Homo sapiens: one gene and its partners. The protein of the gene in region 2 purifies or fractionates together with the protein of the main gene of each other region. This does not show direct contact. Each region holds a gene or a part of one and is shown on either strand. Other genes may lie near its edges.

What was found. The genes of interacting proteins can lie anywhere in the genome.
Region 1: the proteins of MYCBPAP (region 2) and CHSY3 purify together in Homo sapiens (co-immunoprecipitation; 2 studies listed by BioGRID and IntAct, with this or other methods). This does not show direct contact.
Region 3: the proteins of MYCBPAP (region 2) and CHSY1 purify together in Homo sapiens (co-immunoprecipitation; 2 studies listed by BioGRID and IntAct, with this or other methods). This does not show direct contact.

The regions. Positions count from the first base shown.
Region 1 is NC_000005.10:129,900,033-129,907,590, forward strand, and holds the start of CHSY3 (chondroitin sulfate synthase 3), read left to right. Parts: upstream 1-4,432; 5' UTR 4,433-4,797; coding exon 4,798-5,599; intron 5,600-5,809; exon of another isoform or gene 5,810-5,895; intron 5,896-7,558. UniProt on the Homo sapiens protein: Has both beta-1,3-glucuronic acid and beta-1,4-N-acetylgalactosamine transferase activity. Transfers glucuronic acid (GlcUA) from UDP-GlcUA and N-acetylgalactosamine (GalNAc) from UDP-GalNAc to the non-reducing end of the elongating chondroitin polymer.
Region 2 is NC_000017.11:50,504,322-50,511,484, forward strand, and holds the start of MYCBPAP (MYCBP-associated protein), read left to right. Parts: upstream 1-4,117; 5' UTR 4,118-4,224; coding exon of another isoform or gene 4,225-4,353; coding exon 4,354-4,429; intron 4,430-7,163. UniProt on the Homo sapiens protein: May play a role in spermatogenesis. May be involved in synaptic processes.
Region 3 is NC_000015.10:101,248,923-101,257,038, forward strand, and holds the start of CHSY1 (chondroitin sulfate synthase 1), read right to left. Parts: upstream 3,127-8,116; 5' UTR 2,535-3,126; coding exon 2,215-2,534; intron 1-2,214. UniProt on the Homo sapiens protein: Has both beta-1,3-glucuronic acid and beta-1,4-N-acetylgalactosamine transferase activity. Transfers glucuronic acid (GlcUA) from UDP-GlcUA and N-acetylgalactosamine (GalNAc) from UDP-GalNAc to the non-reducing end of the elongating chondroitin polymer.

The sequences.
Region 1 (7,558 bases), on a different chromosome or scaffold from region 2:
ACACAATCTCTACAAGAAGAAATCTGTCTTCACTGTGAATCCAGATGATACCTTATGTTCCAGTAGCTACAGCTCAGAGAAGGTGGCAAATAATTCATATGTTACTGTAGTCTAATATGGACATATTTGAAATAGTTAAAGGGTTTAGGAAAGACAGAAAATCAGTTTTGTAATTTTCTTTGTAAACTATTATAATTTTAGAAGGATTTTATTATTGCTTTTTTCTCAAAATCCACTATAGAGGTGCTTCACAGAGATTTTATGAGATGGTTCACAAGTATACTTATTGGCACATTCTTGCTTAGATAAGAACAGCAACTATATGAGACATTTTTTCCAGAGTTATTATTATAGAATTACCTATATTTGTGTATTCTTTCCTCTAACACAGTATATAGATTTTTATTATATTTTGGTATGCAATTATGTTTATTTTTCTTCAATGTTAGTTCCATGAAAATTTCCTCCTCAACAACCCTTACATCCAATTGACATTTTTAAAAATTATTCCTATAACTTATTACTTAATGTTTTGAAAATAAAAAAGTGAGTTCTTGATAGAGATTTCCCAGAAAATTACCTCCTCTAAAAGTCATGTATCTTCAGAACTAAAGTGAGATGAGAAAATTACTTCACTGACTTTGGGAAACGCCCACAAATAACACCCACAAATAACAGGAATCTGAATACATATAAAATTAAATTTACATAAAAATCTTTTCCCAAAGCTTCTACTTATTACAAATAAGGAAAGGGGCAGACACTGTGCAGGAAGAAAAAAAAAAGAGGCTTGTTTTTTCCCTTCTATTCTCAAGTGATGAGGTCACTTCAATAAAGATTTAAATGTTTTCTCTAATTCTACCCTTGTCCCACTGCAGTTTATTTTCTCCCCATAGGAGCTAGAATGATCTTTGTAAACAATAAATAAAAACCAGATCACTACTCTACACAACAGCTTCATTGTCACTCGGAATAAAAGCCAAAGTCTTTATGAATGTCTGCAAGGATCTATATATGCACTGTCCAATATGGTAGTCCCTAGCCACTTGTGTCTATTGAACATTGGAAATGTGGCTAGTTTGAATTCAGGTGTGCTGTAAGTGATGAGCACACAATGGTTTTGAAAAATTAGTACTAATAAAAAGGATGTAAAATATCTCCCGATATTTTGGGTATATTAAGTTGAATAAAAAGTATGAAAATCAATTTCACCTGTTTTTAAATGAGGCTTCTAGAAAAAAATTAAATTATATATCTTGCAGTTGTGGCTCACATTATAATTCTATTCAGCACTGACCTAAATTATCAACAAGTCATCCGCTTCCTCCTTTTTCCAATCTACTTTGGCCTCTGCTGCGTCTCAATATGCCATGTCTGTGTCAAAGACTTGTGTTAGCTACTCCTTCTCCTTGAAAAGTATTATTTCAGATATCTTCAGGATTAGTTTCCTCACTTTTTTCTGTTTTCTGCTAAAAGTATCAGAAAGAACTTTCCTGACGTATCAGTTTTAAGTGGCCTCACCCAACACATAATACACTCACTATCCTTCTCTTTTTTTTAAATAAACACTTACACCGACATATTACAGATATTTCTTTATATGTAAAAATACTTCATATACACACATGCATGCGTGTGTGTGTGTGTGTGTGTGTGTGTGTGTGTGTGTAATCTCCTCTTAGAATACAAGTCCCATGAAGTCAGGACTTTGTTTTGTCTACGTTTTTTTTCTCAGTGATAGTGTCTGCCTCACAGTACATACTAAATAAGTATCTGTTAAATAAATGAAAAGATGAAATGTAATAAAAATAAGATGATAGATACCATGAGAGAGACGTTTTAGCATAAGGGAAGGGATTAGAAAATGAGAACATTTCCCAAGTGTTTACAATGAACTAAACATTATGTTAAGCACTTCATATAGTATATTAATAAAGCCTCACAGAAATGAATTTACAGATGAGAAATCAAAAACTTAGAATTTTCACAACTTGCCCAAGGTCACTTGTCTCATATGTAATATCACTTCAATGATTTCATTTTATCTGAATCTTTTCTAGTGCCTTCCCTGACTCCCATACTAAATTAGATGCTCTTATAAATATTCTCAGAGTACTCTGTATTTCTATTCATATCATTTATCACCATTGTAATTCATTTCCTAGTGTGATGTTTAATGTGTCTTCTTCAATGCACTATAAGCTTCATGATGGGAAGCACTGAATAGTTTGTTGACATCTCCATGTCCAGAGCCTTCCACCTTGTCTAATGTTTAATCTCTAATATACACTTGTTGAATAAGTGAATGAAATTAACTTCCTCTCCAAATATTCCAAACAGTTGATGAATTGGGTTATTTATGCCCAATGAGAATTAATGATTTTGTAGATCAACAATATGAATGGCATCCATTACCATAAAGCCCAGTTGAATACTGCAGGGGAGAGGGTACTGGTGTGTAGGTGGACTTATTTGTCCTTTACTGTTGACCATATGCAATAGGAAATCCTCTGTAAATGTGCTGTCCTACATGGTAACCCCTAGCCACATGGGGCTATTTAAATAAAAAGTAATTAAAATTAAATAAAATGAAAATTCATTTCTTCAATCACACTAGTCACCTTTCAATGCTCCATAATTTTATGTGGCTACTGTCTTATCAGCACAAATAAAAAAAAATTTCCATTATAGCGAAAGTTCTATTGAATAGTACTATTCTAGAAATTTTAAAATGCCTTTGACGATTTAAAAATCAGAAGGGGCCTGTTTGACTAGCTTTGTATTCTAACTAAAATTTAACTTTGAGAGAGCCCAGTAATCTGTATTCCCAAGTGTCTCTGGGAAAAACCTAGACATGGAAAAGGAGCTTCATTGTCCAGCAGATGAAACATTTAGTCAGACGTGCTCATGCACAGCCAGGGACCGGTGTGGAAAGAACCATTCCTCCAAAGGCTCCAGGCAGGCCTAGTGTTCCAGGGACGCTGCCAGCACCTCGCTGGATCGAGCCATTATGTCTAATGCCATTCAATACCATCCCTTTGCGTTTGATGTCTAAAACAGAAGACTGAAATTTGAAGAGAAGGAAGTACTTGGGATGCCAAATGCACCCCAGACTATAGCTTTATGCACAACCTTTAGAGAGAAATTTGTTAATGCTCCCTTCTTCAAAAATCATATACCTTCAGGTAATTTCTTCCTAACGTAACTAAGGCACAATGATTTTGGCCAATACAGCTTAACTTTTTTTGAGATTCTGTTGCTGGACAATTTTCCTCCCTCATTGGAGAGGTAAAATTTTCCTGTCTTTGCCTTAGAAAATAAAACGGTTCATAGGCAAGAATAAAAATCATATCCTCCATTTTATTTTTTGATTAAGTTCACTTATTTTGTGGGGGTAAGAATTTCTTTCGTTTGGATCTTCAGGGTATTGGCCCTGTGAATGTGTGCCCATTTCTCCACTATTTGCCAGTCCCACTGAGCCAATCTTCTACCAAGACTGAAAATAGACCATAGTTCTCATTTCTTGAACAGATATCATCAGGAGAGCCGAGGGGGAGACCATTAGGCAGCCCCACATTTTCCAACTCAACAGGTGGAGGACATGGGATTTTTACGTTCTTTGGGGATTGAACCCCCACACACCACCAACTCCCTTAGCCTTTCAGGATAAGTATTTCCAATCCCTCAGAGATTTTCTTAGGAGAGACCCTAACGACAATGGTGCTTCTGTGAAGGACTGAGGAGAGCTGGTGGACGATGCAGGTAGGAGGGAAGTTAGGCTGGGAGGAGAGGTGCTGGGATGGGACGTTTGGTTTCCTGACAAGTGACCGACTAGAGAGAGAAGGCGCGGAGTGGCAGCGGTAAGAACAACGTGGAAAGGACGGAAAACGCGAAGAGTGGCGCCCTGGCGGACCTGGGGCGGGGCAGAGTGGTAAGGGTCACGCCAGGACGTACCCGGCTGTGGGCCGGGGGAGGAGAGCACGGTGGGACAGCAACGAACTTGCTGGGGGCTCCCGGACCCGAGCTCCGCCGATGAGGTCAGCGGAGCCTAGGCGCCGGGAGGAGGCCAGTAGAGCCCCCAGACACGAGTGTCGGGAGGCCAGCGGAGGGGCGGGACGGGACGGGAAATGGGACGAAGAGCAAGAGCTGGGGGAGGAGGGAAGAGGGGGCGTCGGCGCTGCAAGCCGGAGGCGGCCCGACAGGGATCGTTTCCTTCCGGAGAGGAGGCCGGCTCTGGACTGAGGCGCGGACGGGGGGCGTCCAAGGGCGGGTGACGGGGAAATACCGCGGCCCGCGCTTCTCTCCGGCTGGCAGCGGTGCCGCCTGCGGCTCCTCCTCCGGGCCAGCTCGGAGCCCGGCGGCGGGGGGAGCGGGAGGCGGGAGTGAGGGCGGGGGCTCGGGAAGGAGGGAGGAGGGAGGGCCCAGGCGCGCCACTGACAGGGTGGCAGCCTAGGAGCGGACGCGTTGCCGCCGCCGCTGCTCCTCCTCCTCCTCCTGCAGCTCCTCCAGCTGCCGCTGCTGCCGCCGCTGCCGCCACCGCCGCCGCCGGGAGAAGTTTCACTCCCGACCCTTGCTCGGAGCCCCGGCCCAGAGCTGAGCGGGAGCCCGGCAGGCAGCTGCAGCCCGCGGCAGTCGAGGCGTCCGCGGCGCTTCGACCTCCAGCCGGTGTCGGCGCCTAGGCGGCCGGCTGCGGCCGCGGCTGGGGGCGCAAAGGCGGAGGAGGGGCGGGTGTGAGCCGGGGAAACCGCGTGCCGCGCCGCGACAGCCCAGCGAGCGTCCGCGCCCGGGACAGCCGCGATGGCTGTGCGCTCTCGCCGCCCGTGGATGAGCGTGGCATTAGGGCTGGTGCTGGGCTTCACCGCCGCGTCCTGGCTCATCGCCCCCAGGGTGGCGGAGCTGAGCGAGAGGAAGAGACGTGGCTCCAGCCTCTGCTCCTACTACGGTCGCTCTGCTGCTGGCCCCCGCGCCGGCGCTCAGCAGCCGCTCCCCCAGCCCCAGTCCCGACCACGGCAGGAGCAGTCGCCGCCCCCCGCGCGCCAGGATCTCCAGGGGCCACCGCTGCCCGAGGCAGCACCCGGGATCACCAGTTTTCGAAGCAGCCCCTGGCAGCAGCCACCTCCGCTGCAGCAGCGGCGGCGAGGACGCGAGCCTGAGGGCGCGACGGGGCTTCCCGGTGCTCCAGCGGCCGAGGGGGAGCCCGAGGAGGAGGACGGGGGCGCGGCTGGGCAGCGGAGAGACGGCCGGCCGGGGAGTAGCCACAACGGCAGCGGGGACGGGGGCGCTGCCGCCCCGAGCGCCCGACCCCGGGACTTCCTGTACGTGGGGGTGATGACCGCGCAGAAGTACCTGGGCAGCCGCGCGCTGGCCGCGCAGCGGACCTGGGCGCGTTTCATCCCGGGCCGCGTGGAGTTCTTTTCCAGCCAGCAGCCCCCCAACGCCGGCCAGCCCCCGCCACCCCTGCCTGTCATCGCGCTACCGGGTGTGGACGACTCCTATCCTCCCCAGAAAAAGTCCTTCATGATGATCAAGTACATGCACGACCACTACCTGGACAAGTATGAGTGGTTCATGCGCGCCGACGACGATGTCTACATCAAAGGTGACCTCCCTGCGCCGGCTTTCCAGCCTGCCAGTCTCCCCGACTCCTTTCTCTGTAACCGGTCCTAGCCCCTGCCCAGCCCCTCCGCTGCTTCTCTGCCAGCACGTGCTTCGGGCTCCCACAGGCCCTGGCCCGCCCTCCCCACCCCTTGCATCCGCCCACAATTCGTAGCCCGTTCCTCGTCTTCTGCAATCTGGACCCTCCTCACACCTGCCTGGCTTTATTCGCCTTCCTCACTTGCTGTTTTCGGTGCCGCCTCGCGCTTGTCCCTTAGTCTTTACCTCGTCGGAGAGGTTAGAAAAGGAACCTTAGAGCTAAACCAAAGGCCATTCCCACTCTGCCCTCCTCTGAAAGCCCCTGCTGATGGTAGTTTCCCCAATCGGTCCAGAGGGGCGTGGTCTTCAGGAAGGGAAGACGGAGGATGCTAGCTACAACTAGTCTGGAGATCCAGTGTTCTGGCTTTGGATCTTGCTCTTTTGTTTAAACTGGATCTAGCGCACTTTTGGAACTGCTCAGATTGAGGAATCGTCTTCGCTGTCCCGGACCCTTTCCTATGTGTTCCCTTCCCTTTGGCTCAACTCTCCACATACTGGGAGTCCTTGGCCATCCCCACCGTGCCAGCGCGCTGCTCCTTCCAGCCGCTACAGTTCAGCACCAAGCCGTCCCCCATCCCCCCGCCACACCTCAATAAAACCCTGAGAGGATGGGCATGTTGTAAGGAATTGGTGGTGGGGGAAAAGAGGAAAGCACCCGCTAATAAGCCAGACCCCTGGGAACAGCAGACTGTACTAGCACACACTAGTATTGGTTCCTTTCCAGTGCATTTTGTTGGCCGCGGTGATAAGCAGAGGCTGGAAGTCCTTCCCAGAACCACAGGCAGCCACAGCAAGAAAAAACTTTTTTTGTCAGTTTAAAAGAGGCGCGGTCTTTTTCCCGGAATGTGGGCGGCTCTGGACAGAGAATTTCTAAACTCAGCGGATCAAAGTTCTTTAGGTCAGAGAAGTGAATCTTTCCAGTCCAGCCAGTTGCTGAGATGGGGAGCAACGCAAGGGAAGCAGCAGGGTTGTACCGAATGAGGTTTCTCTGTGTTTTCCACATTTCCTTGCTTCCCGGTCAAAGGGGGGCAGCCCTTCCTTATTTTATGCCTTTCTACTCGTAGCCTCATTGCTTCCTCCTGATTCGGATAGTACTTTTCACATAATGCAAGAAAAACGAACAAAAAGCCAAACAATAAACCCAAACTGTTGCATTTTGGCACAAGGAATTAGTGTAATCATAATAACTAGAGATTTCTTGGCTTTGGATTGGAAGGAGGGAAGTCACTCTAGAGCAGGTTGGAATAGAAAATACTGATAATTGGATATAAAAATAAAGAATGGTCTCATTACATTTTTAACAGTGGTATTTAGGATTGACTCAAAGAAGAAAGCTTCCTCTACTTTAAGTTCCTTGCCTTGGATATCTCAAAATTACAAAGGTTTCCTGGCAGAAGTTTGCCACATTTTGCAGGGAATTTATAAAATGCATTAACAGCACCTACTTCTTTCATTTGTTTTAATACTTTGAAAGATTGTCCTTCAGAACATTAAAATGACATATTATTTCAATTTCTATTAAGAATGAAATGTGTTTTGAATTAAGAATCCAATAATAGCTGAAACTCATTGAGATACACGGGGCAAGGCATGGGATCAAGATAATGACTGCAGATGCTGTGCTCATCAAAAATGGTAGTAAAGATGCTGACTGGGAATATGAAGAAGGTGACTCTCTACTTATTCCAATGTATCACTTGGAATACCAAGTGCTTCTCAACTGTTTTAGCTGCAAAATTTTATTTTTAAACGTTTTTTCTGAACTTAACAAACTGCAAGTGAAACCAATTACACTAATTTTTGACAAACTTTTTTCTAAAAAGGTGCCTTCCCAAATTAAATTTCAAGACAGGTTTGATTCAAA
Region 2 (7,163 bases):
TTACACACACTGGGCTTTTTTTTTTTTTTTTTTTTTTGAGACAGAGTCTTGCTCTGTCACCCTAGGCTGAAGTGCAGTGGCGCAATCACAGCTCACTGCAGCCTCGACCTCCCAGGCTCAAGCAATGCATCCACCTCACTCTCTTGAGTAGCTAGGACCACAAGGGCATGGCACCACATCTGGCTAATTTTTAGAAATTTTTTTGTAGAGACGGGGTCTCACTATGTTGCCCGGGCTGGTCTCAAACTCCTGGGCTCAAGTGATCCTCCTGCCTCAGCCTCCCGAAGTGTTGGGATTATAGGCACAAGCCATCATGCCCAGCCCCCTCCAGGCCTTTGTACCTTCTGTGTCCTCACCTGGAGTACCTGCCCCCTGAACTACCCATTGAACTCTTTATTTAGTGGCCCACCTCCTCTAAGAAGTGCTACCTCCTCTAAGAAGGCCCCCCTCATATCCAGTCTGTGGTTCCTAAATTGCAGCTAATGACTACCCCATGAGCTCACACATTAGAGTTGGAAATCTACTTTCAAATGACCCCACTTTGTGTCTAAAGCACTCTGACCTTCTTCTACCCCCACCCCAGTCGCACATCAGTGAGCTTCAGGGAATCTCTGGAATTGAATACAAAGTCATGTGCAAAATCAGATGTGCAAATGTATGGATAAACAAAATACAGTATACCCATAAACGAAATATTATTCAGCCACGAAAAGGAATGGAGTCACTGATACGTGTTAAGTGAAAAAAAAAAAAACAGACAGAAAAGGCCAAATATTGTATGATTCCATTGATATGAAGTATCAAGAATAGGCAAATCAGTAAAGACAGAAAGGAGCTTAGCGATTGTTAGGGGATGGGGGTCGGGGCTGGGGAATGACTGGTAGAGGGTTTCCTTTGGGGATGATGAAAACATTCTGGATGTAGGTAGTGTAGGTAGTGGTGATGGTGGCACTACATTGTGTGTGTACTAAATGTCACTCAGTTGAATATATTAAAATGGTGACTTTTATGTTATGTGTATTTTACAACAGTTTTAAAAAAAGTCAAATGCACGTTTCTCAGGAGAAGATTCCTAGGTTTGATTGGCTTCTCAAAAGGTGAAGCAGCTCTGATCTGGTCTGGACCCCTTCATGTCATGATGCAGATGGTGATACTGGGACACAGACAGGGGGTGAGACCTGTCCAAGGTCACTCAGGGGCTGGTGGCAGAGCCCAGCCAGGTTGCATGCCTGCCTGACCACATACTCCCCTACCTGCTTCTTCCCTTGTCCTTTGGTCACCAAACCCTCCCGTCACAATCCCCAAGCCTCTGTCCTGCTCCCAAACATGCCACCCACAAGCTGTGTAACTTCCCAAAGTTAAAAGGCCTTCTTCCTGAAACTGGGTGCACGGATTAGAGTTTCATGAGCGTTTGTCTTTTGCTCTAGAGTGGACTCTGAGCTCCTAGAGGGCAAGAGGAAATGTTTCTTATTTTCCTCCATATCTTACAGAGCTTCTGGGACAGCCACGGAGGTGAGCCATTCCTGTCTCCCTTCAAGAAAGAACTTGCCATTCACCCTCAAGGAGGGCAGTTAGCTGACAACTTCTAACAAACATTCTTTGCCCAGAGGACATGCTGGGTTGGCCAAGACTTTGTTAGATCTGCAGCACAGTCTGAGGCTCTCCCAGCCCTTTCCTGCTTCCTCTCCCTCACCGGCCTTGCCACTACCCCCTCTCTCCGCAATAAACCTCTTGCGGTCCTATGTTCATCTCAGTGCTTGCTTCCTGGAGGACCCACATGGCACAGCACCTAGCCTGCTGGATCATAAGTGCTCAGTCGCGAAGTAAACGGAACTGGGGATTCTCTAGAGGGTAGAGGGAAGCCAGAGCCTGGGCCTCGGAGAGCAGGAGAGGGGCTGTCCGTGGAGGATGCCTCAGTCATAAGGAGAGCAAGGTCTAGAGCAGTGTGAAGAAGGGGCCATGGCCCTGGAGCAGGACCCAGCAACGGGCAACACACAGGGAACTCAGGGATTCACCAGCACTGCTGGCATCGTCTCTAGCTCCTCCGCTGTCTGGGGCAGCTCTTGCAAACTCAGAAATGTCCCAGGAGACAGGGTTCAAAGAGCCCTGGCCTTGGACTTTAGAAAACCAGGTTCAATTTGTGCTTCCCGCTAGTCAGGTGACATTACACCCTTCTCTCTGGAGCTCAGTTTCTCCGTTTGTAAAATGGGCTTATAATGTGTCCCCTCCCTTCAACCCCAGCATGATTTTGAGAATTGACTGAGAAGATACTACAGTTTATGGAGGGCACCCTGTTTCGTAGTTTAAATGCACACTCAGGCCAGGTGAGGTGGCTCATGCTTGTAATCCCAACACTTTGAGAGGCCAAGGCGGGAGGATCGCTTAAGCCCACGAGTTCAAGACCAGCCTGAACAACATAGCAAGACCCTGTCTCTACAAAAAATTTAATAATTAGCTGGGTGCAGTGGCACATGCCTGTAGTCCCAGCTACTCGGAAGGCTAAGGCAGCAGGATCATTTAAGCTCAGGAGTTTGAAGCTGCAGTGAGCTATGATTGTGCCACTGCACTCCAACCTGGGCAACAGAGTGAGATACTCGCTAAGAAAAAGAAATACATACATATTCATTTAACCCTGGCAGTGGCCTTGTGAGAGCAGCATTATGACCTCCATTTTATGTATGTATATATGTATGTATGGATGTATGAGATGGGGATCTCACTTTGTTGCCCAGGCTGGAGTACAGTGGTGCAATCAGAGCTCACTGCAGCCTGGACCTCCTGGGCTCAAGCAATCTTCCTGCCTTAGCCTCCAGAGTAGCTAAGACTACAGGTGTGGGCCACCAAAGCCAGCTAATTAAAAAAAAATTTTTTTAGGCTAGGCACGGTGGCTCACGCCTGTAATCCTAGCACTTTGGGAGGCCGAGGCGGGCAGATCACGAGGTCAGGAGTTCGAGACCAGCCTGACCAACTGGTGAAACCCCATCTCTACTAAAAATACAAAACTTAGCCAGGCATGGTGGCACTCGTCTGTAATCCCAGCTACTCAGGAGGCTGAGGCAGGAGAATCGCTTGAACCTGGGAGGCAGAGGTTGCAGTGAGCCGAGATGGCACCACTACACTCCAGCTTGGGCACAGAGCAAGACTCCGTCTCAAAAAAAAAAAAAAAAAAATTTTTTTTTTTTTTTAGAATGGAGTCTCCCTACGTTGCTCAGGTCAATTTTGAACTCCTGGCCTCAACCAATCCTCCTGCCTCAGCCTTCTAAAGCACTAGGATTGTAGGCCTGAACCACTGTGCCCAGCAGAGAAAACCGGCTCTCTAGGTCAAGGCATTGGCTCAAGAACACACAGCTAACAAGCCGACATAGCTGGGATTAGAACCCAATTGTCTGGCTCTAGAACCCCTTCACTATTTGAGGTACAATTTACTGCCTGACTACTAGTGCTAAACTTTGGGTTGGGGGCAGGGCCTGAGGCAGCTCCTGCTCTCATACATTCTGAGAGCCAGTTTGACAATAGGCAACTACACAAAAAACCGAAATAATCCCAGAATGCCTCAGGGCTCCAGGGGAAGGCGAAAAAAGCGGGTGCGTTTATAAACTTAAAATAATCAGAGGCAGCATCTCCAAGGACTGTGAGAATGCCCCAAGTCAGGGCAAAAGTTTTGGCTGGTTTGGGAAGTGATGAAAGGCCAAAGTGGCTGCAGCGAGCGTGGACCCGGGAGGTCTCCAGGCGCGTTGGTGCGAGTTGGGGACGGCAGGCAGGGACACCTAAAACCTACGGTACGCCACGAAGGGGTTTCAGCACGTCCTGAAAGGCCCGATCCCCCCCCAGAACCGCTGTGAGGGGGGCAGAGGGAGGTCCCTCGACAGGATGTGGCCTTAGTCGAGGAAGGCGGGAAGCAGGGGCTGGCACCCCCGACGCCCCACCCGCCCCCCGTGGCCTAGCAGCAGGGCGGGGCGAGGCGGGTCATGCACCCCTACCAGCCAGCCACTCCCACCCAGCCCTCGGCTCCCGCAACTCGCGGGGGTCCTCGCCCGGGTCCCCCGCCCCGCCCCGCCCGGCTGGTGACGTCACGGCGCTCGTCGGCGCCGCCTGTGGCGTCACAGGCCGGGCCCGCAGGGCTTTCTAGGGGTCCGTCGCTCTTGAAGCCGCCGGCGGCGGGCGCGTGCGCGGCCCGATGAAGAAGGAGGTTTCCAAGCCGTCTCCGCCCAAGTTGATCGGTGGATGCGCGCCCCCGCGCGGGGCACCGGTTGCTGTGGACGCAGTGGCGGCCGTTGGCTGGCGGGTGCGGCGCAGCCTCGGTGTCTCTGGGCCGGCGGTGCAGGGCAACGTTTCATGGTGCCGGGCGGCACCATGAAGTCTCTAAAGAAGGATTCCCGCCTCAGAATAACTCCGACCAGATTATTAGAGGCCTCAGAGAATGTCAAAGGTTGGCGCTGGCTGCCTTGGGCGCTCGGGAGAACCCGAGAGGGGAAGCGGTCCCCGGAAAGAGTTCAGGACACGGGGCCTGGAGGATGGGGATGGCACCAGGGATGGAGGAAAGATCACGGGGAAGTGGGGTACTGGGCATAGGACCCTTAGGGATGGGGGGCAAGGCAGGAAGAGCCTACAGCGCACTGGGCCTTGGGGATGGGGACATAGGAAGTGGGAGACTGACAGAGGGGCCTCAGGGACCACTGGCTGGGGAGATGGCCTTGCGCTACCTCTAACCACATCTTAGGGTGGCATGCAGGAGGCAGGATCCCCGGACTGGATGAAGTGCAGAAGAGCCAGGAAAGAGTTTAAGGGTAGAAGGGCCAGGAATTGGGGTCCTTGGGAAGAGGAAAGAATGAAGTGTTGAAACCAGCCACCTTGATGGGATTATTTGGTAGAGGAGGGTCGGGGAGCGGGGCAGGCGTCACTTAGGATTCCTGCTGGAAAAACCCAGAAGAAAGGCCTTGCTTGGCTAGTTCTCTTTTTGACTGCCTTTTCCTACCACGTGCACTTTCCAGCTGGATGACACTTATCCAGCTCCTTTAGCCTGGAAAGAATCGCTAGATATGACTGCTTCCTACCCTCTACAGCTTTCTTCTGGTTGCACCTGGGAGAGCCACAGGGCGTCTGATAGCGGACTGACTTCCATGGACATGTTCTCACTTGCAACCCACCCCCTTTTGATCTTTTTTGGCTGTTTCCATTTATTTATTTTTAAATTTAATTTTTAGCTTTTTTTTTCTGTGTGTGTGTGTGTGTGTGTGTGTGTGTGTGTGTGTGTTTGTAAACAGGGCTCTCGCTGTGTTGCCCCAGCTAGTGTCAAATTCTTGGCCTCAAGCGATCCTCCTGCCTCGGCCTCACAGACTGCTAGGATTCCAGGCATGGACCACTGCGCCCAGCCTATTTTTGTTTACTGAGAGCTGATTTTGTGTGGTACTGTGGCTCACCAGAAGGGTATCGGTATTAACTGTGTGACCCTGGTCCTCAAGAAACTCAGTCTAATGAACACCTGGAGGAGTAACCTGACAAAGGTAGAAATACAAATGCTGTGATGTAGGTGCCCATCGGGCTTAAGGGGGCTCAGAGCACCTGAGCCAGACCAGGGATGGTTGTAGGGGTACGTCTTCTGAAGAAGGTGACATCTATGGCAGACAAGAAAAAAAAGGAGAGGTTTGCTTCTCTAGGTCTAGGAAGCAGCATGAGTTTATGGAACTGTAAATGTGGGAACCAGAAGAGGCTGCACAGGTGGGTAGGTCAGGGGCCAGACCATGAAAGGGCTTTATGTACTAGGTCAGAAAGCCTGGATGTGCTCTTGCAGGCCCTGGGGAGACCCAGCCTCAGAGTTGTGAAAGCTCATTGTGAGGAGAGGGGACCCTCAGAAAACTAACAGGAGCTTAGTCGCTTTTCAGTATGGCTTTATGTTTCTTCACGTATAAAAGTCCAACGTTGAGCCGGGCATGGTGGTGCACATCTGCAGTCTCAGCTGCTCAGGAGGCTGTGGCAGGAGGATTGTTCCAGGCCAGGAGTTTATGATCACACCTGTGAATAGCCACTGCATTCCAGACTGGGCAACACAGTGAGACCCCCATTATTAAAAAAATAAAAGTCCAATGCTGTTTTATGACATACTATATATATATATGTATGTATTTTATATATATTATGTATATGTGTATATATGTGTGTGTGTGTGTGTGTGTGTGTGTATATATATATATATATATATATATATATATATATATGTATTTTGAGACAGGGCCTCGCTCTGTCACCCGGGATGGAGTGCCGTGGTACAGTCATAGGTCACTATAGTCTTGAACTTCTGGGCTCAAGTGAACCTCCTGCCTCAGCCTCCCAAGTTGCTAGTATTACAGGTGCACACCACCATGCCTGGCAAATTTTTTTTTTTTTTTTTTTTGTAGAGACAAGTTGCCCAGGCTGGTCTTAAACTCCTGGGCTCAAGCGATCCTCCCACCTTGGCCTCCCAAAGTGCTGGGATTACAGGCATGAGCCACCGTGCCTGGCCCGTGACATACTTTTTAATAGTTGAGAGAGAGGGAATATCTGGTCTCCTTTCACAAGGGCAGTCAAGGGCTTTCCTAGCCACTGCCTCCTGCTCACATAGTTTCTGGGAGATCGTATCAGATTTGAACTGCTGTAAACAAATCAAGGAAAGATTTTTCACTGCATATTTATTTTTAATAAGCAGAAAATTTAGTTTGTTAATTAACCCTTGAGTTAAGAACATGCACCAGAGTGAGGAGGGAAAAAAAATGAAGTGTTTAGCATGCAAGATATCTTTTTAAAAATATCTCAGGGGAGCCTCTAATGTTGTAGAGCAGTACTCTCCCCCAGCCCCCATACAAGGCAGCTAATGACCCAGTGTCATTTTGTAACCTTGTGCGATGTTTCTCCAAAGTCTCTGACTCATAAGCAAAAAGGAAAGCAAAAATAGTGACTTAAACCTGTTTCTCGGGACCTGAGAGCCCTTTTGAGTCCTAGTACCCTCCCTTCCTGCTATGCACCACCTCCCCACCGCTGTCTTGTTGCTAAGAAACCAAGAACCCTCCTAGCAATATTAGATTCCCCTCCCCAACCAATTAAAGCTCTGCCCTAGTAGGGACAGCCCCTCCATGGTTCCCCCAGCCCAACCCTAAGGTCAGAATTTCCCAAAGACTTTAATCAACACT
Region 3 (8,116 bases), on a different chromosome or scaffold from region 2:
ACTACAGGCACCTGCCACCAAGCCTGGCTAATTTTTTTTTTTTTTTTTTTTTTTGCATTTTCAGTAGAGATGGGGTTTCACCGTGTTAGCCAGGATGGTCTTGATCTCCTGACCTCATGATCCGCCCGCCTCGGCCTCCCAAAGTGCTGGGATGACAGGCGTGAGCCACCGCGCCCGGCCTGCATTACATTTTCTGAGTATTGCTGGTGCATTAGGCCCCCCACTGATTTGAATATATTGATACCGTAACCATGAAAATGTATTTGGTTCAGGGGGCATGGGGGAGATAAGGGAGTTACCTAATTTACTGTTTGTACTAACTGGTTTGTTAACTGTCCCCAAAACTGTGATTTCACATGGTCTATCACCACACTAGAGTCATGCGGATTTACTTTCAAAACCATGCTGTAAATAATCTATATGGCTCATCCTCGATTTCCGATACGGCTGTTTCTCTGGTCAAAAAAAAAAAAAAAATCCCATAAAACCTCAGGTAATGCAAGGTAGATCTGGGAGAGATCCTGATAGGCTGGTTCCCAAATCACTGCACTAGTCTATGTATCTCTATCTATCGATCGATAGATAGAATTTTTTTTTTTTTTTTTTTTTGAGATGGAGTCTCACTCTGTAGCCCAGGCTGGAGTGCAGTGGCATGATCTTGGCTCATTGCAACCTCCGCCTCCTGGGTTCAAGCGATTCTCCTGCCTCAGCCTCCTGAGTGGCTGGGACTACAGGTGCACGCCACCACACCCGGCTAATTTTTGTACTCTTGAGTAGAGACGGGGTTTCACCATATTGGTCAGGCTGGTGTCGAACTCCTGACCTCAGGCGATCCGCCCGCCTCGGCCTCCCAAAGTGCTAGAATTACAGGCGTGAGCCACGGCGCCCCGCCTGCATTAGTCTGTATTTACAATACCTGCATTCTAAGCTTTTCAAGCCACTCAGGACCCTTCCTGGCGGAATGTGGGTTCTGGACTTAAGCAGGACCCTAATGGAAATGTGCAGGAATGGGGATCAAGCCATTCAAGGGGCAGTCACTGAAGACCACTTTCACCTTCTTTCTCAGTCCTTTACTTTCTCCCTTAAAGGCAAGGGAGACCATATATGCTTTTCCCCTCACAACATCTAGTGCCTGAAAAATCTGACCAAGACTGCATTTAAAAACTGAAGTGTAAAGGTATTGGTTATAAGAACAAACAGCAACCAGCTTAGCCTGGCTCAGCACTGGCTGCTCTGAAATTTCATTACCAGACAACTGATGCTCTAAAACCATTCCCCACATTGGTTTGCTCTGTGGCTGGATAAGACCCAAACTTTATCCATACAGTAAGTGTCTCTATACTTCACACATATAGGGTTTCCATCAAATCCCTTTATCGAGTCTACAACCCTCTCCAACTTCAAATTCACTCCAATACAAATCTGATTCTAACCATGCCAGCCATTCCAAAATCATCTCCCTTCTAGAGACTACATTGGCTAATCCCTTTGTTAAACCTGAACACAATTCCAGCTGCTTTTATGACTCATTTGGCCAACTAGAGCCCAGTTACTGGATAACATGCATACACCACCAAGCTGAACTAATTAACACCAGAATGCAGTTTTCCACTGAATCTACCAAGGGCCAAGAACTGCTTTTCCCCAAGGTTCTCTCTCTCTGTACTCAACAGACTGGTGTGGTCCAATATGCTGCGGGCATTCTCTTTCATTTATAGGAGTGCCTCCAACTGCGAAATGTGAGAGTATGATGTGGAAAGGTTCTAGAACTAGATTAACGTACACGGGCTCCAGCTTTGCAAGGACAAAGGTGCACATTTTAGGGAATCCAGTATCAGCCCCAACTGCCTCCACTATCAGGTACTGTGCTATGAGTTTTCCAACATTATGAGGGAGACCCGATCTGTCGGGCCCTTCTAACGAGAAGCTTCGATTTGCAAAGGCTAAAGTGCCTTCATCAGGGTGAGAGGTACACCCAGCGAGGCCACACTAGTCCATCTGACCCCAAAGGCCATGTTCCTGAGCGCCGCGCTCACCATCCCGCCTCTGATCTTTTCTCCCTCGGCCCGGCGTCTCCCGAGAGGCAACCCGATCCCGCCGGAAGCCCAAGAAGGGCCTAGGAAGCGGGCGGAGGCGAGAGCCAGGAGAGCACCCGGGATGCCGGCCGCCGGGATGCCGGACGCAGGAGGCGGTGCCCGGGGAGCAGGGGCTCACCTGTAGGCGGCCACGGCCCGAGTCTGCAGGTATTTCTGGGCGGTCATGACTCCCACGAAGAGAAAGTTCCTGTCGCGCGGGCCGCCATCTGGGTCCGAGCCGGGCGGCCAGAGCTGCGCCCCGCGCGCATCGCCGCGCGCCCCGCCGGCCTGGGAAGCCGCCGCCTGCCCGGACCGGCAGCCCTCGGGGCTGGCGCGGCGCCGTGGGCCCGCTCGCTTCAGCTCGGAAGCCCGGGGCAGGACGAGCCGCGAGGCCAGCACGAAGCCCAGGACGAGCCCGAGCAGCACGCTGAGCCAGGCGCGCCGGCCGCGCGCGGCCATGCCCGCGCCGCTCCGCCCGCCGGGCCGCCGCCGCAGGCTCCGCGCGCCCTCAGCCCGCTGCCCCCGCCCGCGGAGGCCAGCCCGCCCTAGCGCCGCGAGGCCCGGCCCGGGCAGCGCCGCCGCCGCCGCGGGCCCGCCGCGCCCATCGCGGCCCCCGAGCCGCCCGCAGGCCCCGCGCCGGCGCTTTGTTCCGCACGCCCGCCCCCGCCGCCGCGGCCTGCGCCTTTAAGAGGGGACCATGCCCGGCGCGCGCTAGCGGCGGCTCGGGCGCGAGGTGGCGGCGGCTCCTCCCGCTCGCGCGCGGGGACGCGGGGCCGGCACGACGGCGACGACGGCGGCGGCAGACGAGTCCGGGCTCCCGTCCCGCCCTGCCCGCGTCCTCCGGCTGGCTGGGCTCGGTTCGCACGGCGCCTGTCCCCGTCCTCTTCGTAGCCGGCGCCGCCGCCGCAGCTGCACATCCTCCGGCTTAGCTCGCCATTGCAACAGGAGCCCCTCACGTCACGCACGGCGCGTTATGAAGTGGCCCCGCCGGCGGCGAGCCGTGGCCCCTCTCGGGATCCGTCCGCGCCGCGCGATTGGCGCAAAAGTGAATGAGGGGCGGTTCACGTGGCCGAAGTTTGACCAAAAAAAAAAAAAGCCCTCTCGGGCGCCCCGCCCGCGCGGTCTGCGACTGGAGCTGGCGGGCGGAGGGGGCGTGGGCCCCCGCCCGGCGCCCGCGGGGCCGGAGCTGCCCGTGATCCGCACCTAGCACCCGGCGCAAGGGCGTCCCCGCGAGGACGGCCGCTTCCCGCACCGCGGCGCCCGGGCGCGAATCTCGGGAGCCAGCCTTGCAGTGGGGGCTTCTCGGCCCCCAGACTCCACGCTGCGCACGTTCCTCCCGCACGGGCCGTCCTCGCTGCACCCCACGGCCACGCCCTTCCTGCCGCCGGGCCGGCCCCGCGCTCCCGGCCCCGCGCTCCCGACCACACTGCAGCTTTGTCCGCAGTCCCGCGGCCGCACGCAGGGAACAGCCGTCCCGGAGCCCTGGGGACGTGCGCGCCTGCGAGTGGACCGTGAATTCAGTTACCTTGTTCCCTGTTGCTAGTTTCTACGCTAAATAAGAAGAAGAAGAAGAAAAAGCCATCTTTAATACTTAAGGTCCACGCTTCTCATACAGTACTAGCATTTAATGGATCTCGAAGACAAGGAAAATGAAGTTAATGCCCTGGATGGTAAACCCTACTTTCATTTACATACTGTGTGGGCAGATAGCCGGCTAGTACCCCCAGCCTGGGACTTTGTCCCTACTTTAATATAGTCCGTCTGTAAAAGTGCCGTGGATTTCTAAAGACGGATTTTGGGTCCCAGATCCTCTACTCTGGATTTTAAGTTTTATACATTTCCTCTGCAATACTTCAGCTAAGGCAGCAAAAGCGGAGGTCTCCATACAACGAAAGTTTGTGTAGAGTTTCAGTCTTGTTACTTAGTCACCAGTATATTGGGGTTTTCTAATGAAACTTTTGAAGGGCAAAGTGTTTCCCTGGGCCTGAGAAGTTACCTGCATTGAATCAAATAAACACATGCCTGGGGCAATCCTTGGATCTTTCTTCATTGTTGACCAAATGGTTGAAATACTATCACACAGTTTAAAATGCCTGTGGGAGCTTCAGATACCTTCTCGGCACCTGAATGGTGGTCACTCTTGTTTATTCTTTGGATATTACCACTTTCTTTGACACTTGTGATTTATATTAAAAATAGTTCATTACCTACCTTCCCACAGAGCCCCTCCCTAAGGGGTGATCCACATCTAAAAATAAAATACTCATTATGCAGTGAATACAGGATTCCAGCAGTGGTCTTGGGAAAAATACAGAACATACAACCATGAATTACAGGCTCGAAAACCATCGAAAAAGGTTTCCACTAAGACCATAAACCACAAATGCCGAGGAGTCACCAGATCCCCCAAATTCAGCAGCCCCATCATTCACAGTGATTTACATGAAGTACGAATCTGGCCAGATTCAGATGTTCAATTTTGTAGCATATTCAACGATTTCAGTATTTTCTAACCTGCTTTAGACTTACCTAGTTTTCTTCGAAACTAGTGTCCAGTGAAAAGCTGGCCGGGCGCGGTGGCTCACGCCTGTAAACCCAGCACTCTGGGAGGCTGAGGCGGGCGGATCGCCTGAGGTCAGGAGTTCGAGACCAACCTGACCAACATGGAGAAACCCCGACTCTACTAAAAATACAAAATTAGCCGGGGGTGGTGGTGCATGCCTGTAATCCCAGCTACTCGGGAGGCTGAGGCAGGAGAATCGCTTGAACCCGGGAGGTGGAGGTTGCTGTGAGCCGAGATCGTGCCATTGCATTGCACTGCAGCCTGGGCGACAACAGCGAAACTCCGTCTCAAGGAAAAAAAAAAAAAAAGTATATAAATATCTGATGGGAATAATATTCTGAGGATGCCAAATATTTTGTCCTCCTCAATATCCTGGTTCCTAGTTGTCCCTCAGTTCCTAGGTTAACAGTCTCACCTGTCTCACCTGCAGGCTTAATGGGGGTCTTTCGTAATGTAGAAAGGATACCCTTTTCTTTGTAAAGGCTGAGCCTGAGGGCTTACAATTCCCTGGAGAAGGAGAGTAAGACATACGGGAACTCCCTCTGGGAGAAGAGGGATATGCCAGGCCAAGAGAGGGTTGGAAGGAGAAGAGAGAAACTGAGGTCCTGTAGAAGTCTGCCAGGGGCAGGGACCAATTCCGGCATGCAGCCTAGGAGCAGGAGGGCAAGCTCTAGCACATCTGGAAGGAGCAGCTGGATTGTTGAGCTGAGGCAGTTCTCCTGGGGAAGAATCCAAAAGTGTCCCAGTAAGGGGCCTGGCTCAGGAGACAAGGCTATCCTAAGTGGGGATTTCACAGCCAGTAGCAAATACCTGGAATCAAGAACTTCAGTGACAGCCAGAGACCCAAACAGCTGGACAGGACTGGTACCCCCAGTATGAAGGCCTGTCCCATGCCCAGCCCCACTAGTCAATACCAGCAAGGAGCCAGGGAGGACAACGAGGGTCTGGAACATCTGCCCCCAATGCACACACATGCGTCCTTCCCCACAGCCCCCTGGAGGCCAAGGCTGTCCTCATCCTAAAGCCCCCTCACCCTAAGTAATTTTTAAAGGTAAGGAGTAGGCAGGGTGATTCGCATTTATAGGGATTTCACTGCAGGGAGCTGAGGAAAGACTTTTCATGTTCCGGGCTTCTTGATTTCACTGTGCTACTGGCCTTCTCTGTTGAGGGAATCATTGACCATTTTTCTCATCATAAAAGAAGGGGAGGTATTAACTGTTACCAGGAACACTTGTAAGGAAGCCCTTAACTGTAGTTATTCCATGAAAGTCCCAATGGCACAGGAGTGGCCCAAGAGGTGGGCTGTGATGGATCAGGGATCAGGAGTGTGGGACCGAGTCTGAGCTCTGCGTGGAGTGAGTTCCACCTGGAGGGGCTCCGGGAGTCCGGCTCTGTCTCCAAATGAGTCTTTCTGCTGGATCACGTTAAACGGTCCTCCATAGTGATTCCAGACCAGTATTCAGAAATGTGTTCAAAAATCCCAGATCACTTAACTTCCCTTCTGTGTTCATGAGTGTGACTCTTTATGACACATTATTAAAGTTCATCGCCACCTACCTTACTGAGCATTTTCTCACAGATGGCAACTTTGTTCCCACACACTTCACATTTCTTTTCTGTTGCTAATACATTGAACGTCTGTTACCAGTATAACATTTCATATAATTTGCAGCAATTTCTTGGAAACCCTTGGTAAATACCTCAATTGTTTGTTGGCAGCAAGCCTCAAACGACCGACAGAGTTCCCTGTTAGAGCTTCTTTAAAGATGAAGCCTCTCCACTCACGCCTCAAACAGGGGTCCTTGGAAAAAGTGGTAATTTTTATTAAAGAAAAAAAACTTTCAGAAAGGCCTGTTTTAAGAAACAGTGAATGCTGAGGAGTTATAATCATCCATCCTTTCAGAAGGTTCTGTTCACTGCCTGCAAAGAAGAAAATCTATAATGACCACTTTACTAATATTGCCACTTAACCTCTGTTAACCCAATAAAACACTGCTTCATTATGAATGCTGCTATTAAACTTACAAGCAAGATCCTCATGAGGTTGTTAATTTCGCTCACTATTTCCTTCTGTTTGTAGCATTTCCAGTCAGATGCAGGAAAGGGCAAGTGAGCAGGGCTCACGTTCTGGTTTCACACACTGGCCTATTCCAGCCCTGGGTGTTCTGCAAAGTCCTTCAGTGCTTATCAGCTGTGTACACCGTTTCCATCAGACGCTGAGTCAGTGTGAGTGCTTCTCACACTGTGTGTGTGTGTGTGTGTGTGTGTGTGTGTGTGAGCTTTCATGTGTACGATAGAGACACAAAAGAGATTTAAGTTCAGTATAACCATGTGGACCAGCCAGATGGGATGTGATCTTCCTAACTAGAAAACGCTGGGTGCCGCCAGCACAGGCACTACTGGGAACCAGCCTGAATGTTCTTTAGGAGACAACCTCACTGCAGAGGCTGAGGACAGTTGGCTTCTGGTGTTAAGACTTAATCCTTGTGGAGAGGAGTTTGCCTTTCCCATCCCTTGCCAAGAAATGCATTGATCTTTAAAGCGGTGCCAGAGTTTCCACAGCTGGGAAGTTTGCACAAAGACAAAGCTCCTATCCACAGGAGGGAACTCCCTGTAGGAACCCAGGCACTGGACAGCTGGGCAGCAGCATGGCCACCTGAGGGCTCAGTGCAGCTGGGGCCAGATGTGCAGCTCAGATTCGATTCCCACTGGAGGCCTAATGAAACGTAAAACTGGGAAAAACATTCACGCTGCAGAAGACGGTTTAAGCTACAAATTGAGGCAGCAGAAATAGGGATCTACAAACACCTGAAAGTACAATGCAAGAGAAAACACTGTCACCATAATACTCATGGCTAAATGGCCCCAGGTCATTGATCCTTCTCACACCCAGTTATGCTATCAAGCCCATGCTAGGGTCATAAACACTCTTAATGCACACCTCATGGGTGATAAATGTTGTTATCCAAAGTTGGCAATTAAGGCCTCTCTAGGAACTCAAAATAATCACCGTATGTATATTCACTCGGAGGAGTCTGTGGAAATAGAGGCTTTCCCAACATGCTTGCGGGAGAGCAAAGTCATACAAACCCACTGGGAGGGCGGTTTTGTTTGAATATAAGTGTGAATTTTTATTTCCATTTTTTTAAAGACAGGGTCTCACTTTGTCACCCAGGCTGGAGTGCGGTGGAGTGATCGTGGCTCACTGTCAACATTACACATTACAAGTGCATTTGCTTTCGACCCCACAGTCCTGCTTCTGAGATTTGTCCTCCAGCCATACCAGTACAAAATGACACTTGAACGAGGTTATTCTCTGCGACACTGTTTGTGATAGTAAAAGATCAGACCCCAGTGTTCATGTATAGGGGAATGGATAAATACACAAAGGCGCACCCATCAGAGAATGAACTATTGTGCAGCTGTAAACCACAGCAAGGAGGCGCTCTCTCTACTGAAATGGCACAAAACAGAAAGC